Regions from separate parts of the Homo sapiens genome. Here region 2 is linked to region 1. Evidence: fine-mapped expression QTL. A gene starts in region 1. The other region holds a variant in brackets. All regions are shown on one strand. Distances are between the middles of the regions. Region 1 holds the start of C8orf34-AS1 (C8orf34 antisense RNA 1). Region 2 overlaps C8orf34-AS1 (C8orf34 antisense RNA 1).

What was found. PIP is the estimated chance that this variant, and not a neighbour inherited with it, causes the effect.
Region 2: its variant is the best candidate, but not a certain one, in a credible set for the expression of C8orf34-AS1 in sun-exposed skin (GTEx, PIP 0.79).

Annotation. Positions count from the first base shown.
Region 1 is chr8:68,326,666-68,336,911 of GRCh38, forward strand. C8orf34-AS1 (C8orf34 antisense RNA 1) reads right to left here and starts at 4,826. Exons shown (of 3, transcript NR_038877.1): 1 at 4,642-4,826. It overlaps C8orf34 (chromosome 8 open reading frame 34), which reads left to right and starts at 4,290. Exons shown (of 14, transcript NM_052958.4): 1 at 4,290-4,674. The coding sequence starts at 4,348.
Region 2 is chr8:68,303,357-68,313,602 of GRCh38, forward strand. It overlaps C8orf34-AS1 (C8orf34 antisense RNA 1), which reads right to left. Exons shown (of 3, transcript NR_038877.1): 2 at 3,162-3,242; 3 at 112-1,445. Among named protein-coding and RNA genes, the nearest start is that of C8orf34, 22 kb to the right of the region's middle. RefSeq lists a silencer at 2,917-3,117. The variant A/G (reference allele first, on the strand shown) is at 5,619.

The DNA of each region.
Region 1 (10,246 bases):
CTTGCAACCTTGACAGTGGGGGTTTAATACATCACTGGGGTTCAAGATACTCTGCTACTTACTAGCTATGACCTTGGGCAAGTTACTTACCTGGTAAGTGTCTCAGTTTCCTCATCTAAAAAAATGGGAATAATAGTAGTACCTACTTCATGATGTTGTTTTGAGAATTAAATGAGTTGAGGGAGTGTATAAAGTGCTGTTATCAATACCTAGTACATAGTAAATGCTGTATGTGAGCTCATTTGCATTAGTTGTGGGAGGCATTTCGGGCAAAAATGAAGAAAACTCTCTATGTGCACCTCCCTTTTATGGCCAGATTATTCATATGTGCTGGGTTCCTTGGAAAGATATTTTTCCCTTTTTGTTACAAAGTGGCAAGGTGAAACCAAAACAGAAAGAGGATAAGTATGCTTCAGGGATAGAAGTCTAAATTCAAGAAATCCATATAGAACATCTCTGCTCTCTGACTTCAACATTTAATTAATTTCAATGGATTACATTGCTAATACTTCCTAATTGGGTCAACTGGACTTCACCACTGTTCCCTCATCTCTCCGAAACCTATTTGTGTAAGGAACTGTGCAAGGTGTCTTACAAATGGAGTTGGACAATGGCTTTAGTGAATTCTATAAATTGGATTCTGTACATCTGTAAATTATGCTGACAGGCACTTCTATAACACAATGAGGTCAAAACAGTCTCACCGAAAATGGTCTTTTCATGCTGTATCCAACCCAAAAACGGCGAAAGGATCCTAAAGGTACCATGGCATATGTGCAGAAAAAGTTGATAAATTCAATCCAAGACAATGGTTACCTTTCAGCCAATTTTAAAGGGACTACCTAATACAAATCTTAAAACTTATAGTAATAGTACCTTAATTAAAGATATTTTATGAAGAACCTACTATGCGAAAATATACTGTGTTACACACTGTAAAGTAAAAGAAAATTATTAAGATACAGTTCATGATTTTAGAGAGTTTGCAGTTTAAAAGAGAGACCAAAATATGCATGCAATTGACTAAAGGAAACAAAACAGAGTATAAATGCCATGAGTCAGAGGCAAAGTTTAGACTGAAAGAACATAGCTGGACTGAATTGATATTCTAAAATTCAATTCATTCATTTAATTGCTATTTCTGGAGTATCTACTATGTGCCAAGTCATGAGACATAGCTGTTCCCACAAAGGGGTGCTAATATCTATAAACTCAATTTTTGACTAGTTTCCAGGTTACAGGGTAGAGAGCAGAAATAGCTTCAGCTTTAGAGTTAGAAAAACCTGAACTAAAACCTTGCCCTACCAATGATACATTGGGTGACTTGGGTAAATAATTTGTCATCTCTTAGCTTCATGTCAGATATCAGAGTGTCATCTTTGATTTCCTCCTCTAACTTCATCCTTCATTTAGTTAATCAACATTAGTCCTTTACTATGTCTGGAATCCATCCCATCCCCGTTAACCCTATATCTTAAGTCCTAACAATAACCCCATGATTTGTTACAGATTCTGTAGCCTAACAAGTCACTTCTCATTATCCACAAGATGTAAGTCTATTGTTCTTAACAAGGCATTTAGGACTTTCAATGAGCTGAACTCTGCTTACATTTTTAACCTCACATGAAAATAATACTCCTCCACATATACTTTACATATCTTTAACTACCAGCCTGTTGGGTGTCTCTGTGCCTCTGTACATGCTATCTTTTTTAAAAAAGAAATAGAATCTTGCTTTGTTTAGGCTGGAGTGCAGTGGTGCAATTACTGCAACCTCAAACTCCTGGGCTCAACAGATCCTCCTACCTCAGCCTCATGAGTAGCTGAGACTACTATTTTATTGTTAATAGAGACAAAGTCTCGCTATCCTGCCCGGGCTGGTCTCAAATTACTGGGCTCAAGTGATCCTTCTGTCTTGGTCTACCAAAGTGCTGGGGTTACAGGTGTGAGCCACCAAGCCCAGCATCTGATGCCATTATTTATATATATGCCGATTGCCTCAACAAGACGAAGCAACTGAGGACAAAGACAAAGCCTTTCACCTTTGAATTCCCAGTCTTAACATAATGTCTGTCACTGAGAAGCTATGCAATAAATGTTTATTGTAGTAATGAAGCCATGTTTAGGGATAAATAGAAAGAACCAAGAAGTGCTTTATGAAGGAGGTGATATTTAATGTTGGCCTTGAAAAGCTTTGAAAATACTCCCTGAATTTTAAATGTGCAATTTTGGGATGCTCAGAGTTTTAACATACATAAATGGGTATGCATATCCTCATGTTGCTCTTCTTTCTTTGTCTCTTGCTCTCTTTCTTCCTTTCTTTCTTTTGACTGAGTCTTGTTGTATGGCCCAGCCTAGATGCAGTGGCACACTCATAGTTCACTGCAGCCTCAAACTGCAGCTCAAGGGTCCTGCTGTCTCAGTTTTCCCAGTAGCTGGAACTATAAGTGTGCACCACTATGCCCAGCTAATTAAAAAAAACAATTTGTTTTAGAAATGGGGTCTTTTTATGTTGCCCAGTCTTGAACTGCTGGCCTCAAGTGATCCTTCCACATAATTGGGATTACAGACGTGAGCCTTTGTACTTGGCTTCATTCTCTCTTTAAAACATACACATTTTGCCAGCTGAAGCTTTGTCTCTTCTATTCAAAGCCCTAAGTGCAATAGTCTGAGCATGGTGAAGACTTAATAAGTGTCTTTATTTCATTTAAAGAAGCATCCTCCTGATGCCTCTTAAAAGAGAAAGACTCTTGATTTCAGGAAGCGTACCATCTTGGTACCTTATGTGGTATCAAAAATAGTAGGCTTTTTAGCTGGGTCATAGATGGCCTTCCTTATGGCTCTACGCTATACCTTTTAGCAAATAGAAATGTTGGTATTCACTCTGTGTATTTAATTTCTCCTGGACACATTAAAAAATACATAAGTAAATATACCTTCGAACCAAAATGGAAAGCACGAGGCAACCCTGGACACCTCACTGCTATTTAACTTAACCCTCCCTAGGCAGATCATATGAGTCCGATTGTAAAAGTATTAATGTGGACATCTTTCCACTCTGGATCAAGTCCATTTCAGGTTATCAGGGATGGTTAAGCTCCTAGCTATTCTAGCAGATTTCTTATGTCTTAATGCATGAAATTAATAATAGTTCCTGGGATATTCCACACTTATCTATTACATGTTTCCACATATTTAAAATACAGAAGGAAAACATGAACACCAATAAAGAAACTATGAGTAACAGAAATCCAGAACACAGTGAAGAAAGAAAGAAAAAAATATATACTGCTGCAGTCAGCTTTTAGGAAAACTGTTTCCATCATTCTGAAAATTTATATTTATTAGAAATAAATCTAATTTTGGCAGCACATCATGGTTAGGAGCCAGGGAAATTGTCATTGGGACCTTAGTATTGTATTTCACAAGAAAGAGAGCTCTGTGAGGAAGCCTGGGCTATCTGCAAACCTTCGACTCGGAAATCCCTGCATAATAAGAAAGGTATTGGCTAAATTTGAGCAGCTCACGCAGTATCTAGAGGAAACATTATGAAGTGGGATAGTGTGGTGTCTGAGATGCAGTTATAGGTATACAGACATGACTCAAGGCGTGGATTAGGAAGGCCAACTTTGGAGGGGAGGGCTGGCTCGCTCATTTCTCTTCTCCCTGTCAAATGCTGAAAGGCTGGTTCCAGCCTTTGAGCTCCTGCACTTTGAGAGTTTTCAGCTGGGTTCTCAGGCTGCGTTCACCCGTCGACTTGCTCCAGGCCAAACCAGATTTTGAAAAGGAAGGCAACTTCTTTTTCGCGGCAAACCCTTAAACCCACGCACCTTCTCAAAACTCTGCCCTTCTCAACCCCTGCGCTAGAGTAGGCAGGGCAGAAGGTGCTGAGGAGAGGCTCAGAAGGGGCGGTGGGGACGATCCCCTTTCGAACTGCATTTGTAGCTGCCAAGGAGTAGCCAACAAGCACCAGATTTATGTGCACTTTGAAAGAAGCACCTTCACCATTGGCTTTTTAAGCGGCGCTGTCGCTAGGGAGCGGCTGGTAGGGCGAGCAGCCTCGGGGAGCAGCCCGGGCTGTTTGTTCCGTCACCGGGGAAAGGAGGTACACACAGTCGCGCGCGCACGGACACACACACACACGCACGCACGCACACACACCGGTGGCGAGTTCGAGCCCCGCGGCCCCTGTCCGCCCGCGTGCGCCCCTCGACACAGCTCGCCTCCCGCCCCCTGATTCCTGCTGCTGCCGCCCAGAGGAGAAAGGAACCTCTGCCTCGAATTTCCCCACTGCGCCGGGCGCTGCGGAGAGCGGCGAGGGTGGGCGCGAGGCGGAGAACGCGATGAATGAGTTCTCCCCTCGCCTCGGAGTTGTCTGAGTTGGCGGCGCTGCGCCCAGGCTTCCGGCTCTCAGCGCCCCACGCGCGCGTGGCTCCCCGGGCTGCCACCCACGCCCGCGGCCGGGGCCGAGCCAGCCACGCAGGGCAGCCGAGGCTCCGGAGCTCCTGTCCCGGCCCCAGTCCGGGTAAAAGGAGGGTTGTCCCCAGCGGAGGCGCACAGCCGCGCGTTCTCCCTGCACTCTCTTCGCGGTCCCATCTGTTCCCCATGGCGTCTCATCCGCAAACCCGGATCCAGGCTTACCTGGAGAAGAACAAGATCGGTCCCCTGTTTGAGGTAAGGCGCTGTGGAGGAGGGCAGTCCCGTTGTCTTTAGGGGAAGGGGTGCAGTAATGAAAACAGAACACTCCCAATCCCACCCCTCCCAGGGAAGGAGGGCTAGAGAACCAACGCGCGGGAGAGGGCGCCCTGGGATTCACTGGCATTCGCTCTGTCCCGGCCAGGTGTCCTGGAACGCGGCCGGGCGGGCACTTAGCCAGTTACCTGAACGCGGACAGGTGAGCTCGGGAGGGCCCAGCCTCAGCCTGGCAGGGGAAGTTTTGGCCCTCTGACTGTCCTGCACCTCTCAGCTACATGTTCAGGACCCGGGCAGGCTGAGGCAGGCGACGCATACGGATGCACACACTCAGACTGTGTTGCACACGCACACTTTCTTTTTTGAATTCACGCTATCTTGAGTGTTCGTGTTGGATTTTCTTTTTTCTTTTCTTTTCTTTCCTTCTTTTTTTTTTTTTTTTTTTTTTTTTTTTTAATGAGGGCGGTAATAGAACCCGAAAAGGTGGAGGAGGTGCTTAGCAGTTAATACAATTAACTGGAAGACAGCTGAACTGGTGAGGAGTAGGCTTCAGTCGGTGCGGGCGTGATGAATGAAATTGGCAAACTGAGAGACTGCCATTTGGTCACTGGACGAAAGGAGAGTCCTTTGCACTGCAGACCCCACATGTGTTAGCAGGAGAAAGGGACGGAGAAAGGTTCTGAAAAGCACACACGTATTTGTGGAAGAAGACTATAGCTCTGAGCTGGTTTTGTTTTTTTTTCTCTCTCTCGCCATTAAAGAATTTAAGACAAAAATACAGTAGAAGGAAGAGCGCGAGGACACGAGAAAATGAGAACAAGAGATTGAAGCCTGGCACCAGCAAAGCGTCCCGCGGGTTGCCAGGGTGCTGAGCAGGGGTGGGGCGTGCGGACCGTAGTCAGAAGTGGAGGCCCTTGCGGAGGGACTCCCTTGGTCCCATCCAGTTCAGGGGGCACTGACCGGCGGCGAGAGTTCGCGGGAGGGTCGAGGTGCTCCCGCCTTGCCCCCGCCTTGCCCCCGCCTTGCCCCCGCCCCCCACGTCTCCCAGAAGCAGTTGTAGCTGTTCTTAACAGCTTGGTTTGGGGTGAGGGCTTGGTATGGGGAGGAGGTTACGTGTCAGTGTCTGAGAGAGGCAGAATCGCGGCAAGTGGAAGGGGCTGCACTGGAGATCGCGGAAAACCTAGCAAAGACTGAAGAGAAGCAAGTGAGAACTGTGGAGAACAAAAAAATAATGCGAGTTAATGACCCTGCAAAAAAAGGGCGCGGAGGACAAAGGTGTGGTCCAATAGGTCTTTTGGGAGGACGGGTTTCACATAACAAGATTTGCAAGATCTCCTAAGTTTTTTTGCCCAACTTTAACGTTGATCTGTCTTAGACGATAAGACCATTGTTTCAATTGAAGCTCGCATTGTGGGGTGCAGAGTCCTACAATTGCTTTGATTCTTTTTTCTGCCAAAAATGTTAACAAAGGCAATCCATGCAAGAGCGAAATAAAATTGATGGAACTACCAGATTTCTTTTCTTTGCCTTTAGTTTAATGATTATTGATTATACATAATCCTATATAATTTTTTTAAAGGCAGAAGCCTAAAACCTTCTGCAACGCAGTGTATTAATTGCATCGAAAGAATCATAAAATACATACATTTAGAGTGTGTGTTTTCTCTCTACTCTCCTGGAGTATAAAGTACAATTAGCCTGGGAGAATAAATGAATTGTTTTTAATAAATACTGTTTTAATTTGTTATCTTAAAATCCCCAAGATTTTAATAATAATAAAATTAGGAATATATGTAAACTTTCTGCAGAATTAGAAAATAAACTCAAATGGATATTTATGAAGTGCCCCCTAACCCCCACCTTTTGATGCTCACCAGCAAGTTATGCGCTGAAGAATTTTAAGTGATAGCAACGTGTCTCATAAAAGCTTTAGGTCCCCTCACCAAAAAACAAGCACCACCATGCTTCGTATTTTATTGAATACATATGACATACACTGGCATTAGCTTAGATTGCAGTGATGAGTAGTGCATTTTTTAAGGTTTGATGTCCACTTTAAATAATTGAAGGGAGAAAAATGGATAATAAATTCTCTTTTAATAAAAGCTGGATGTAACACAGTTCCTTATGCAACAATTTTGATCATGATAGAGCTTGACTTTGAGAGTACAATTATACGTATTTCACAAAATTGGAAGATTTTACTAGCGTGTAGCCTACTTGTTTCATGTTAGAAAACCAGTGCCACCTGTGAAATGGACATTGTTGACCTAGAGACCGTCCATTCTCTTCTAGGACCTTACTCAATAGTTTTCACAGGAATTGATTTGGGTCAGAGGAGGTGCCCAGCAATCTGAACATATTTAGAAGCAGCACAAATGTTTGCTACAATTTTAATTTCTGGGCCACATTTTGAGAAACTGAGCTAAAATCTCCTTTTACCACTCACAAATTGAAATTGGCCGCTTCATGTCTTGTCATCTATGCTTTGTTGTGTTGAGTCAGTGTAGCTGACACAGGCTTCTTTCAGTTTGGAAAATATGCGGTATCTGATAATATGTCCCCCTTGTGGATAGTTTAAGTTAGGAATGTTTTAAGAAAACTTAATTGGTATGAGATACTTTAAAGATAATCTATGAATGTTTTTTAAAACAATAGCAAAAAGTAACCTATTCACTGATATTGAGAATACTTGATCCTCTTTTTTACCTGTAGGGCTTATTTACCTAGTTTGTTCACTTAGTTTATTTCTTACTTAGTTTATTGCTAATATTTTATGATTTGAGATGCTTATTAAAGTGTTACATGCAGTATGGTGTTTCAAAATTTATTTTAAATTGAAATTAATTTTGTTTCCAGCTGACTCAGGTGAATAAATTTGTACTACTTTTAAATTTCATTGAAGATGTTTTGGAGCATTACAAAACTATGCCTAAAAATCATTGCATTAGAATTCTGGACAATGATATTCTGATTAGATAATATGAAGGTGTAAGATGAAAAATACATTTCACAAACTTTCTAATTTTTGTAAGATGTAATGGTTTACATCTTACAAGATAAATATTTGTAATATATATAAATATTATATATAGTGGAATATATATATTCCATGTATGTTTGTGTACACACACATTTTATATAAAGAAATAGAAACTTTTGAGTTTCTCCCATTATTGATTGGAAGAGTGCTCAGGGCAGTTATATATCTTGGTTCAGGCCTGATCACACTCACAAGAGTGTGAAATCTTAAGTTACTAAGAAGCCAAATAGTGGGGATCTTCATAAAATCACCATGGAATTTTTAAATTTGTGTACTGAAGATGTGGCAAACAAAAGTCACTACATTTCTCTAAGTATGGTATGACCCACTCCAAATAGAATGGAATCACTATCACCTTCTCTGTTCCACTCAAAGTGCTTCTACTCACATGGTGTAAATTTGCATTAACTGATTTGGCATATATGTTATAAAATGGACTTATCAAACTTATGATCAAAGCCTGCATCACTTATATATTTTGCTGTTGCCCAGCTTGCTCTTCTCTGGTACCCCACGGCACTTCTTCCAGCCATGTATGCAACCCTGAACTCCAATTTGCTGCCAACCCTCAGCAAGCCCATTATTTCACTTTATTGACCTCCCTGATCATATCTAAAAAATGCTCCTTGCGTTTATCAGAGAGCTGTAGTGTCTGCGGAGATCTCCTTTCGTTGTTCCCCCTCTCATAAGGATCACAGCCGTGGGCTACCTGTTATTTAATACATGAAAAGAAATATTTTTGTCTAATTTAGGCAGGCTTATGATTGTTTAGGGCAGTTGTTTGGGGATAAGAAGGATACTAGTTACTCACTTATGGCCAGAGGTAAAATACCCCTCCAGAAAGATATTTTAATGTTTAAAAATAATTTGTCGTTAATAAAGGTAAAAGTGTCATTTTAATAAAAATGATTAGGAAAATGCTTTTATTAGAGAAGTAATAAAATATAAGCTTGGTAGTTATAATATGTTCAACTTAAATATTGTAAATATATTTTTTGGAGTAATGATTGTCAGGTGATCTTCCCCAGTGCTCAAAGTTATGAAGACTTTTCCTATATCAAAATTTGCATTAATCTTTATAATCTCAGAGCATTTAGAGGAGGCAGAAGACAAAGCAGTTCCATTTTATAAAATTTTGCCTAGAGTCCAAGTTAAGTGTTGTCATTGACTTACTTCAAAACAGTTTTTTAAAATGTTACTTTAATTAACATGTTTCTATTACCAGCCCATTTATTTTTCATTTCTGCCTTAATGTATTTTATTTTCATGCAGCTTTTAAATAGCTTAATAAAGTGACCCAAAATTCAATTCAATAAATCACTATATAACCTTAGAAATAGTAATATGTACATATACCAATATGGCATCAATAAATTTGAAAAAAGAAATAATATTTTGGGCAGGCATGGTGGTTCATGCCTGTAGTCCCAGCACATTGGGAGGCTGAGGCAGCTGGATCACTTGAGGTCAGGAGTTTGAGACCAAAGACCAGCCTGGCCAACACAGTGAAACCACATCTCTACTAAAAATTCAAAAATTAACCAGGCATGGTGATGCACACCTGTAATCCCAGCTCCTCGGGAGGCTGAGGCAGGAGAATTGCTTGAACCCAGGAAGTGGAGGTTGCAGTGAGCCAAGATTATGCCATTGCACTCCAGCCTGGGCAACAGAGGGAGACCCCATTACAAAAAAAAGAAAAAAAATAGTATTTTAATATTTGTGGGTCTCTCTTAAGAGAATGTGATCAATGGAAATATGAGACTACAAAAATAACATAGGCTTTCCTCCCTTTTTTTTTTCATAATTCAATTAAGAAGCCATGAACCATACAAAGAGAACAGCTAAGACTACAGCTAAGACCCATATGACAAGGAGAGCTAAGTTGGGAGTTCACCTGGAAAGTATCAGAGCACAATTAAAGAAAGGGGCTGAGTGGGCAGTGGCCTGGCAGGGTCAGAAGATTTGTTACGTACAAGGTGGGGGCAGGGTATTCAGAAAATAATTAAATATATTGAAAAAATATATATTCAAGTCAGCCTTCTTACTGATGGACATAGGAGTCACAGAGATAGTATAGGGAAAGCTAGAATGAACCTTGTTGTGTTGGATTGAAATTGGAGGTGTTGGTGTGATCTCATGACTTTCAATAATAGAAACAGGTATAGATGTAATAGAAACAAATATAGATTTGTATGTATTTACATATACTTAAGTGCATATACCTACATTTACTTCCCAACTCTGTCTACTGGAAGGGCCTGGGAATAACAACATCCTGGTAGCAATGAGCACACCTAGCATCCACATTTTGGTTTCTAAATACCATTCTCCATTAAGTAGAACCAGGTGTCCTTGAAGAAATGGTTGATTCCAGGTTTGGGGCTAAGCAAGGTTTGGAGTATCATATGTCAAAAAGTAAGGAAGAGCTCAAAGAATAGTAGGTATGTATCAAAGGACACAGAGGATGTGCCTACCCCTAAGACAACTTGAGGGTCAAAATAAAGAATGATA
Region 2 (10,246 bases), 23 kb before region 1:
AAGAAGGCATATATATGCATAAAAAGCCTGTACGACAATATTCAAATCTGTTTCATTTCTAATAGCCAAAAGTGGAAAACATCCCCCAGATACTTTGATGTGAGACAAGAATGAATAAACAAGCTTTGGCATTTTTATTCAATGAAATATGCAGCAATAAAAAGAACCAACTACTGACATGCAGCAATATGAATAAATCTCGAAAACATTATATTGAGCAAAGGAAGCTAGTCATAAAATTGTACATAATTTACTACAGTATTTTAGTTTTATGAAGTTCTAAAACAGACAAAGCCAATCAATGATGGAGAAAAATTTGAACAGTAGTTTTCTTGGGGTGTGGTCAGGATTGGTGATTGAGAAGGGACACAAAAGATTTTGCTAGGGTGATAGTAATGTTGTATAATGATGGGCTTTGAGTTATAAAAGTATATACATTTTTCAGAACTAAGTAAAATGTGTGTGTAAATTAATTGTGTATTAATTGTACATCAAAAGGAAAAAATTGAACATTGAACTCTAATTAATGGCAGAGCATGTGGAAAGATCTAGGAGAAGCATGCACTTGTTTGCAGTTTACTTTCAAAAGCATATAACAAGTAATATATTAATTCAGGAGTAAATACATGAAAAAGCAAGAATATAGGTGCTGAGTGTATATTAGCATTCATGCTAAAATTCTTTCATTTCAGCTATACATTTCAAAAGTTTGATTAAAAAAATTTGGAAAAAGTAAAATGCTACAACCAATAGCTTTACAGAGAAGAGAAAACATATCAAAAAGACAAGAGATAACCAGTGTTGGAGAGGATGTGGAGAAAAGGAAGCCCTTATACATTGGCGGTGGGAATGTAAATTAGCACAGCTATTATGGAAAGTAATATGGAGTTTCCTCAAAATATTAAAAATAGAACTGCCTATATTCCAGCCCAATTCCACTTCTGGATACATATCCAAAGAAAATGAAATGAATATGTCAAAGCAGTATCTGCACTCCTATGTTCATTGCAGCTTATTCACAATAGCCAAGATATGGAATCAACCTAAGTGTCCATCAACAGATGAATGGATAAATAAAATGTAGTATATATGTACAATGGAATACTATTCAGCCTTAAAAAAGAAAGAAATCTGGTCATTTGAGACAATATGGATAAATCTGGAGGAAATTATGTTACACGAAATAGGCCAGGCTTAGAAAGACAAACACCACATAGAAACAGAGGGTAGGCAGGGTTCAGGGGCTCATGCCTGTAATCCCAGCACTTTGGAAGGCTGAGGCAGGAGGATCGCTTGAGTTCAGGAGTTCAGGTGTCATGGAGCATGCCTGTGGTCTCAGCTACTTGGGAAGTTGAGGCAGGAAGCTTGCTTGAGCATGGGAGCTTGAGGTTGCAGCAAGCTGTGATCAGGGCACTATACTCCAGCCTGGGCAACAAAGTGAGACCCTGTCTCAAAAAGAAACAAGAAATAGAGAGTAGAATTATGGTTACCAGGAGCTGAAGGACGAAGGAGTTGAGGAGATGTTGGTCAACAGATCCAAAGTTTCAGTTAGCAGAAGTAAGTAGAAGAGAGCTATTCTACATCACAGTGAGTAAAATTAATAAGAATGTATTGTATACTTGAAAATTGCTAAGAGAGTAGATTTTAAATGTTCTTTCACTACAAAAAATGGTAAGTATGTGTGGTAATAGATATGTTAATTCACTTGACTAGTCATTCCACAGTGTATACATATATCAAAATATCATGCTATATATCATAAATATGTACAATTTTTATTTGTCAATTTACAAAAGAAAAGGCAAAATAAATAAGGAACCTTATGACAACAAAATGCTCTCAAATAGTAAATCCCATCTCCTAAATACACATAAAATCAACAGGAGGATGGGAAGTTTAGGTTGAGACAATCTGCCCAAAAGACAAAGAGATGGAAAAATAGAAGAGTGAAGATAAGAAAATATAGCATTAGGCAAAAGGATTCAACATCATCTAAGTAGTAATCTAGACGATGAGAATTGAAAAAATGTTTCTGAGGAAATTACCAAAGAAATAACAGAAGAAAATGTCCCACAACAGGTAGGAAAGAATGTACTTTCCTAGACTGAAAGGACTATGTGTCTATTATTAGAGTGGACAGCCAGACAGACATGAGCAGGGCAGGAGAAGCCCCCCACCCCACCAGGAATGTCAGATGACCATCAGGTGCTAGTCAGGTGGTTGTTAAACTGTTTCTCTAAAATAATAATTGGTTGCTGCTGGCACCGGGGAAAGGCAGTCTCCCAATAGATAGAAAACACCTGAAGGTGGTGGTCAGCAGTTTCCCAATAAGATCTCAGGAGTTAGTTCAGTGTGCTCAAGCATGCACATTAAGAGGCATAATGGTGGAGTTTAACTGGCATATAACCTTCCTCCAGGAACACTCAGCTGATAAGGGGGAAAACACTTCAAGTGAGCATACACACAACTTCCAGTAAACATACTACTCATGGGGCCCCTCCCAAGTGCTGGCATGTACATGCAAACAGCCCACCCCAAGGAAGAATCAGGAAAGAAGAAATGCAAAACCCTACAAGCATGCCAACATATAAAAAGCCCAAGTCAAGGACTAAATGGCACACTTGAACTCTGGAGTTGCCCAGTGGGCCCTCTTCCAAGTGTACTTTACTTCCTTTCTTTCCTGCTTTAAAACTTTTAAATAAACTTTCGCTCCTGCTGTAAAAATTGCCTTCATCTCTCACTCTGACTTATGCTCTGCGGATGAATTCTTTCTTCTGACTAGGGAAGAATTGAGTTGCTGCAGACTCATATGGATTCACCACTGCTAACATACTTTGGTGCTGTGACTTGGATAAAACTGTATGGGATGGGTTTTGTGAGAGCACCAGCTATACTGAGGGAAACTTTGGAGGGAACCAGCTACTAGATGATTCAATTAGTCTTTCATCCCTATATCCAGGTTGGACAATCGATTTGCCCATCAGGACCATTGCGGACCTCCACCAGTTTCCTCTGGCTTCATCTTGCCCAGGCATAGTTCACAATCTTTCATTTCCTAACACCTGTGCTCATGCTCCACCTCCCCAGCGTGGCAGGAGATACAGACCAGTGGTAGACTGGTGGTATTCCCTCAGTAGAGTGGAGAGTCCTTGGGAACCCACCGTGGGTGATGAGTGCTCCAGTCTTCACCTTCATTGCACCATGGTCCATGGCAGTCCTGATGTGCAAATTAGGTGTCCAACCTGGGTATAGGAAAAAAGACTAATCAAACCATCTGGTAGCTGGTTCCCTCCAAAGTTTCCCTTAGGATACCTGGTGCTCTCACAAACCCATCCCATGCAGTATCCCAGTCATGGTGAACCTGACCCAATTGTCCCATAGACAGTTCTTCTTGATAAACATAGGAATTGACACTTTTGGTCTTAAAACTTAAAACTTATATTTGTTTTATCTGAGTTCCTTCCTCAGGAAACAACTTTCAGGCCTCTCAAAAAAAAAATATCAAGGAACTAAAATTCACCAGATTACCACATCCAGACAATCAGATGCCAGGACCTATCATTCAACATTATTGCTTCCTTGCCCCTCCCTAGTTCCTGTTCTCTTACATTGTTACATTTCTTCCCTTCTATATAAACCCCTAGTTTTAGTGGGTCAGGGAGATGGATTTAGACTGAGCTCCCATCTCCTCAGCTGCAGCACCTGATTAAAGCCTTCTTCCTTGTCAATAGTTGTCATCTTAGGGCTTGGCTTTCTGTGTGGCAAGTAGCAGGACCTAGACCGAACCCCTGGTGTTTTGGTAACAACAGCACCAAAGTATGTAAGCAGGGATGAATCCATATTTGTCTGCAGTAACTTGATTTTTGCCTTTTCAGAGGAAAGAATTCATATGAGAACCATAAAGCAAAGTGAGAGACCAAGGCAAGTTTTAGAGCAGGAGTGAATATTTATTAAAAAGTTTTAGAGCAGGAATGAAAGAGAGTTAAGTATACTTGGAAGAGGACCATGGAGGTGACTTGAGAGATCCAAGTGTGCCATTTAGTCCTTGACGTGGGGTTTTATATGTTGGCATGCTTCCAGGGTTTTATGTCTCTTCTCTCTGATTCTTCCCTTGGGATGGGCTGTCTGCATGTGCAGTGGCCTGCCAGCACTTGGGAGGCACCACATATGCAGTGTGTTTACTGAAGTTGTGCGCATGCTCACTTGAGGTGTTTTTCCCTTACCAGTCAAGTGTTCCTAGAGGAAGGTCATATACCAGTTAAACTCTACTACTGTGCCTCTTAGTGCGCATGCTTGAGCCCAATCACCCAACTCCTAAGATCTTAATGGGAAGCTGCTGATCACCAGCTTCAGGTGTTTTTTGTCTATTGGGAGACAGCTCTTCCTGGTGCTGGCCGCTACCACTTATTATTTTAGAGTTTAATAACCACCTGACTATAACCTGATAGTCACCTGACATTCCTGGTGAGGTGGGGGGCCCTCTCCTGTCCTGCTCATGTCTGGCTAACTACCTACTCTAACACTATCACAGTGATTGAGGAAAGATATTACCCCTACCAAGACATTTCAGAACCCAGGGACAGAGACTTTATTTGGAAAGCTTCCAGAACATGGAGTAGGGGATGGAAAGATGAAGTAGGGCAGAGTGGGGAGGGTGGGTGAGGAGGGGGTGGAAGCAAGTTGTCAACAAAAAACTGGGGATTGGAATGGTGTTACAGCACTATTGTCAAAAGATGATGGAATTATGCCTTTCAAATTCTGAATTATTTCCAATTTAGCATTGTATTATCAAATAGTCAAGTGGTGGGATTATAATAATAAAACATTTAAAAAGATGCAAAAGTCTCAAAAAAATTGATCTTTCATGCACACTTTGTCAGTAATTTACTGTGATGCTCACCTGAAGTAAACTTGTAAACCAATAAAGAAAGAAATATGAACTGTTTTCTGGGAAACAGGAAATCTGACTTTAGAGTGGAGTGAAGTGAATTCCTGAGATGATGGTGAAAGGAAATCCTAGTATAATGAAGAGGAGCTGTCCCAGGAAGCAAATTTTCCCAATTAGAGCAAGGGTATCCAAGGACTCTAGAAGGATTGTTCTAAGAAACAAAACAATCACATTTGCTTGTTGTTTATGAACAGGTTGTGGGGAGTTTTATTTAGATGAATGGGTGGGAGTTTGGGCAAAAATCAGTGGAAGGTACATAAGAAAGGAATTAAACAAGCAATAGGACTTGATTAAAGTGAAGCAACAAAAGTGTTACACAAAAAAGGCTCCTTCATTAATGAGTGTGTGGTTCAGCTATGGATTATTATATGCAAATCATAATGTCAAATTGAATATTAATAAAAAAGATCAATAACTACAGTGGGTGACTATAGGAAAGGGTACATTATAGAACTCAATCCTCATCTTCCATAGTATGAAGTCAGTAGATACTACTATTGAAAAAACTAAGAAACAATATTCTATATTATCGTTGAGGAATTTGATAATAAATACCAGAAAAAAATGAGTTGAACATCATTTCCTCTGGAGATCACAGATCAGGGTGAAGAAGGAACTAGGGGATGGCTGCTTTCATCATGTCTTATAAAGCTGTTTAACTGTTTAATGA[A/G]TAAGAAAATAAAATTTAAGTGTAGTTATATTAAAGAATACCATCAAGCATGTTCTCTATTGTTGAGAAAGAACATTCATTCTTCTAGCTCAAATTGAAACTGTCTCTGCAAAATTATGATGGAAAGAGACATCTGACTCCATCTTGCTTCTAGCCTTAGAGATTGGTTCTCTTTGTCCATTTCTGCATGTGGGCAAAGCTAACTTTGTGAGAAATTTAGTTTATAGTTTAAATGATAATAGCCCTTCCCGAAACTAAACTGTTCTTATAAAACAAATGAAAGACTACCAAGTTAGGAGGATAAGAGGGGCTTAAATTCTCAATAATTACCAGCCGTTATTCTGGAGGTCATAAGATTTGCACTTTCTCCAGTTAATCCTGCGGATAACATCACTGTTATAGAACCTAAGATTGGCCTTTTGAGATATCTTTTCAGAATTTTGCAATTCTGACAACTGGACGGCCCCACCTAGACCCACCAACCAGCCCTGTGGCCCCCACCCAAGAACTGACTCAGCACAAGAGGACAGCTTCCATTCCTTTGATTTTATCTCCAACCCAACCAATCAGCATGCACCCTATCCTAGCCCCCTGCCCACCAGACTATCTTTGAAAAACCCCTAACCTCCAAGCCTTTGGGGAAATCGATTTGAGTAATAACTCCATCTCCCGTGTGGCACAGCTGGCCTTGCATCAATGAAACTCTTTTTTTTACCGCAATGCCATAGTCTCAGTGAGCTGATTTTGTGTGTGCAGTGGGGAGGAAGAACCCATTGGGCAGTTACAAAATTCATGTCATAAAATATAATAATCTTGATTTTTTTCCAACGGAAAAGTTAAGCCTACTAGTCATAAACTTGTAAGCATAAAGTTAAGTGAAGCAATGTATATTTTATAATAATTTTTTTCATGTAAGAAAACTCAGTGATATTTTCTAGATCTCTTTCTCCTCAAGGAATTGACTTGAGAGTAGTGAAAATATGAAAAGTACACAAGTAAGTATAGAATAAATTTTTATGGAGTACTGAATTTATTTAGAAGAAATGAAATGTAAATGTGCTATATTGTGTTGTGTATAGATCAAACAAAATATATCAGGGACATTAGTTGTTACAGGATTGATTTCCATAAAACTCTAGTCTGAGCAGGTCACCTTAAGCTGAAAAACATCACTCTGTCCCGCTGCCTACAAAATAAAGCTTAAACTTCTTTCCTTGATGTATGATGCTATCTGTGCTCTACCCTGAACACATATTTCCTAAATAATTTATTGCCATTCTCCCTTGCTGTACCCTTCAATAGAATCAAAGTGAGATTGCAGCAGTTCCTCATAATCAAAACTTTGTTTCTCTCCTCCAGGACTTTTCTTTTTTCCTATTATAATTTAAAAAATTCTTTTATCATAAAACATAATGTATCTTAAAATTATTTTATATTTAAAGTATTAAGTAAAATCAAATTTAAATATATTTTGTCTGTATTTGAAATTAGTCTTAAAATTATTTTAAAAATTAAAAAGAATTAAAAATCAACTGTCCATTAACTTTACATCTCTTTTTAGCCATAATCTGATCTTTTATCTTTTAGAGATACCTTCTTGAAAGTGAAGCGGCGTCACTGTCTGGGGTAAATACCCAAGGTTCACTGTCTCACACCAGGGGAATCAAGGATATGGACACACAAGAAATGGTTTTAGGAGCAGAGGTTTAATAGGCAAAAGAAAGAGAATGGAGAATAGCTCTCTCTCCTGGGAAAGAGAGGGGCGCCCAAATGAGACTTCAGTCATGGCAGAGTGCACTGGGTTTTATAGACTGGCTTGAGGAGGTGGTGTCTGATTTACACAGGGCCCAGAGATTGGTTGGACCAGGTGTGACGTTTTCTTTCTTTCTTTCTTTCCCTTCCTCCCTCCCTCCCTTTCTTCCTTCCTTCCTTCCCTTCCTTTCCTTCCTTCCTTTCTTCCCTCCCTCCGTTTTCCTTCCTTCCATTCTTCCCTCCCTCCCTCCCTCTTTCCCTTCCTTCCTTCCTTCCTTCCTTTCTTTCTTCCTTCCTTCCCTTCTTCCTTCTCTCTCTCTCCCTCCCTTCTTCTTTCCTTCCTTCCTTATTTTCCTTCCTCCTTCCCTGTCTCCTTCCCTCCTTCCTTCCTTTCTTTCTTTCTGGATTGTGGGGCATTCTATTTCTTTTGTAATAGCTCATGAAGAAGCTGGCCACCCCACCCTAATCTTTTATTATGCAAATGTGTTTTCTACCGGGCTGGCGCCATGTTGTCTTCTCCTTATTGTACACATGGTTGGCAAGGAAAAGGGAAGGTGGAGCCCCCATGTTGAACATACCTGGCCCCCAGGTTAGCTTTTTCCCATTGGCACAGCTGCCAGCATTCACCTGTGCAAGCTTCCAGCTTGCTTATCTATGTCTGCAGCTTGATTTTACAGGCTGCTGTTTGTTAGAAAAGAAATTATTTTGGGGCTGCTTTTCATTAAAAGGAAAACCTTACCGAGGACTTCTTTACCCTCACTATCTGCCTAAATAATTTCTTTCTAACTCCTATATCAAATGGACTGAAAGATGTTTATTAGGTTTAGTTAGGTTTATTAGGTTTAGTTAGGAGGTTTATTAGGTTTAGTTAGGAGGTCTGAGGCCACCTTAGCAAAAGCAGTATCATTGGAGTTCTAGAAATTTATACAGGTAACAAGAGATAAATAAGAAATTAGAGTAAACACATGCAGATATTTCCAGGCTAGCAGTCAGCACGTTTCTGTAAAGGGCCAGATTTTAGGTAGGCTCCCTCCTTCCTTCCCTCTTTCCTTCCCTCTTTCCTTCCTTCCTTCCTTCCCCCCTCCTCTTCTTCCTTCTCTCTTTCCCTCCTTCCTTGTTTCCTTCCTTCCTTCTTTCCCTTCCCCCTTCCCTGTCTCCCTCCCTCCCTTCCTTCCTTCCCTTCTTCCTTCTCTTTTTCCCTCCTTCCTTCTTTCCCTTCCTCCTTCCCTGTCTCCCTCCCTCCCTCCTTCCTTGCTTTCTTTCTTTCTGGCTTTGTGGGGAATTCTACTTCTTTCATAATTAGTCAACTCTGCCAGCATACAGTGAAAACAGCCATGCACAATACATAAATAAATAGCACAGCACAGTTGTATACCAGTAAAACACAGATTTGGCTTAAAGGATACAGTCTGCTTACCTTTTTTCCTAATGTCACCACATAAGCCTCTTCCACAAGTTGCTTAATTGCAGCATAAGCATAAGAGGCACTATCTTCTCCCAGAAGAAAAGATTAGAAAAAAGGAGATCTGGAGCACAGGTGTCATTGGAAAACACACTTGAGCCCAAGAAATAAGCCAAGTGAGCACAAAGTAATACTATAATAATGTTAAAATCACAAAATTAAAAATCTAGTCAAATTCTCTAATTCTATAATTGCTAAAACCAAGGCGCAGAGACAAATGTGACAAAGACACACCTGGGACACAGTAGGTGCTCAACACATTTTTTGATGAATTATTAACTTGCTCAAGGCTGTGTCTGTAATAAGAAGCACACCTGAGAATATAATTCAGGTTTTGAGATTCACATGTAGAGTATTATTTTCACTCTGACAGGTCAACATCACAGGGAAAGTATTTCCCACATGTATGAGCTAGCATGATTATTAACAGCATAGGCTAAGTTATGCTGTGCTTAAAAAAACAGCCCCAAATAACCTTTTTCTTTTCTATGTAATCTGCATACCTATAGGGTGTGGGTGAGGACTCCCCTCATTTTAGTCTTTCAGGGATGCAGATGAAGGAGGTTCTATCTCCGCCTGTCCATCTACAATCACTACTGCAGATAAAGAGCACAATTCAAAGATCTTGCTCCCACAATTAAGTGTTCCACCCTGGAATCGACACATAACACATCCTCCCACAAACCACTGGCCAGAACTAGTCATATGCCCATACTTGATTTAAAAGGGCCAGGATCCCAGGCCAGGTGGCTCACGCCTGTAATCCCAGCTACTAGGGAGGCTGGGGCAGGAGAATTGCTTGAACTCCGGAGGTGAAGGCAGAGGTTGCTGTGAGCCAAGATGGCGCCACTGTACTCCAGCCTGGGCAACAGAGTGAGACTCCATCTAAATAAATGAATAAATGAATAAATAATAAAAGGGCCAGGACTCACAAGGTTCTTGTGTGCCTAGAATAATAGGGAAACCAAGTATTTCTGAATCCTGAATGCTGTGTGGTAGAAATGAAACTGACTTTGCAAAAGTTACAACAGCAAGAAAACTATGGCAGTGGAGGAGATCTGATCTAGCCAACCCCCATCTTGCCTTTAGCATTCAAGCCGCCCTTGAATATTCCTGGGCGTGGGTCAAGCTAACTGTGGGAGATGTTTAGTTTATAGCTTAAGTGATAATAGCCTTTCCCCAAAATTCAGCCACCTTGTAAAGCTAGTGAGAGACCACCGGGGCTAGGAGGATTAGAGGGGCCTGAATTCTGCTAAGGTGTAGACATAAATGATTGCCAGCCATTCATTATTCAGGAGGTCACAAGATATGCAACGTCCCCAATTACTCCTGCAGATAACATCACTATTGTAGAACTTAAAATTGGCTTTTTGAGATGTCTTTTCAGGTTTTTGCACCTTTAATGACTAGTGGC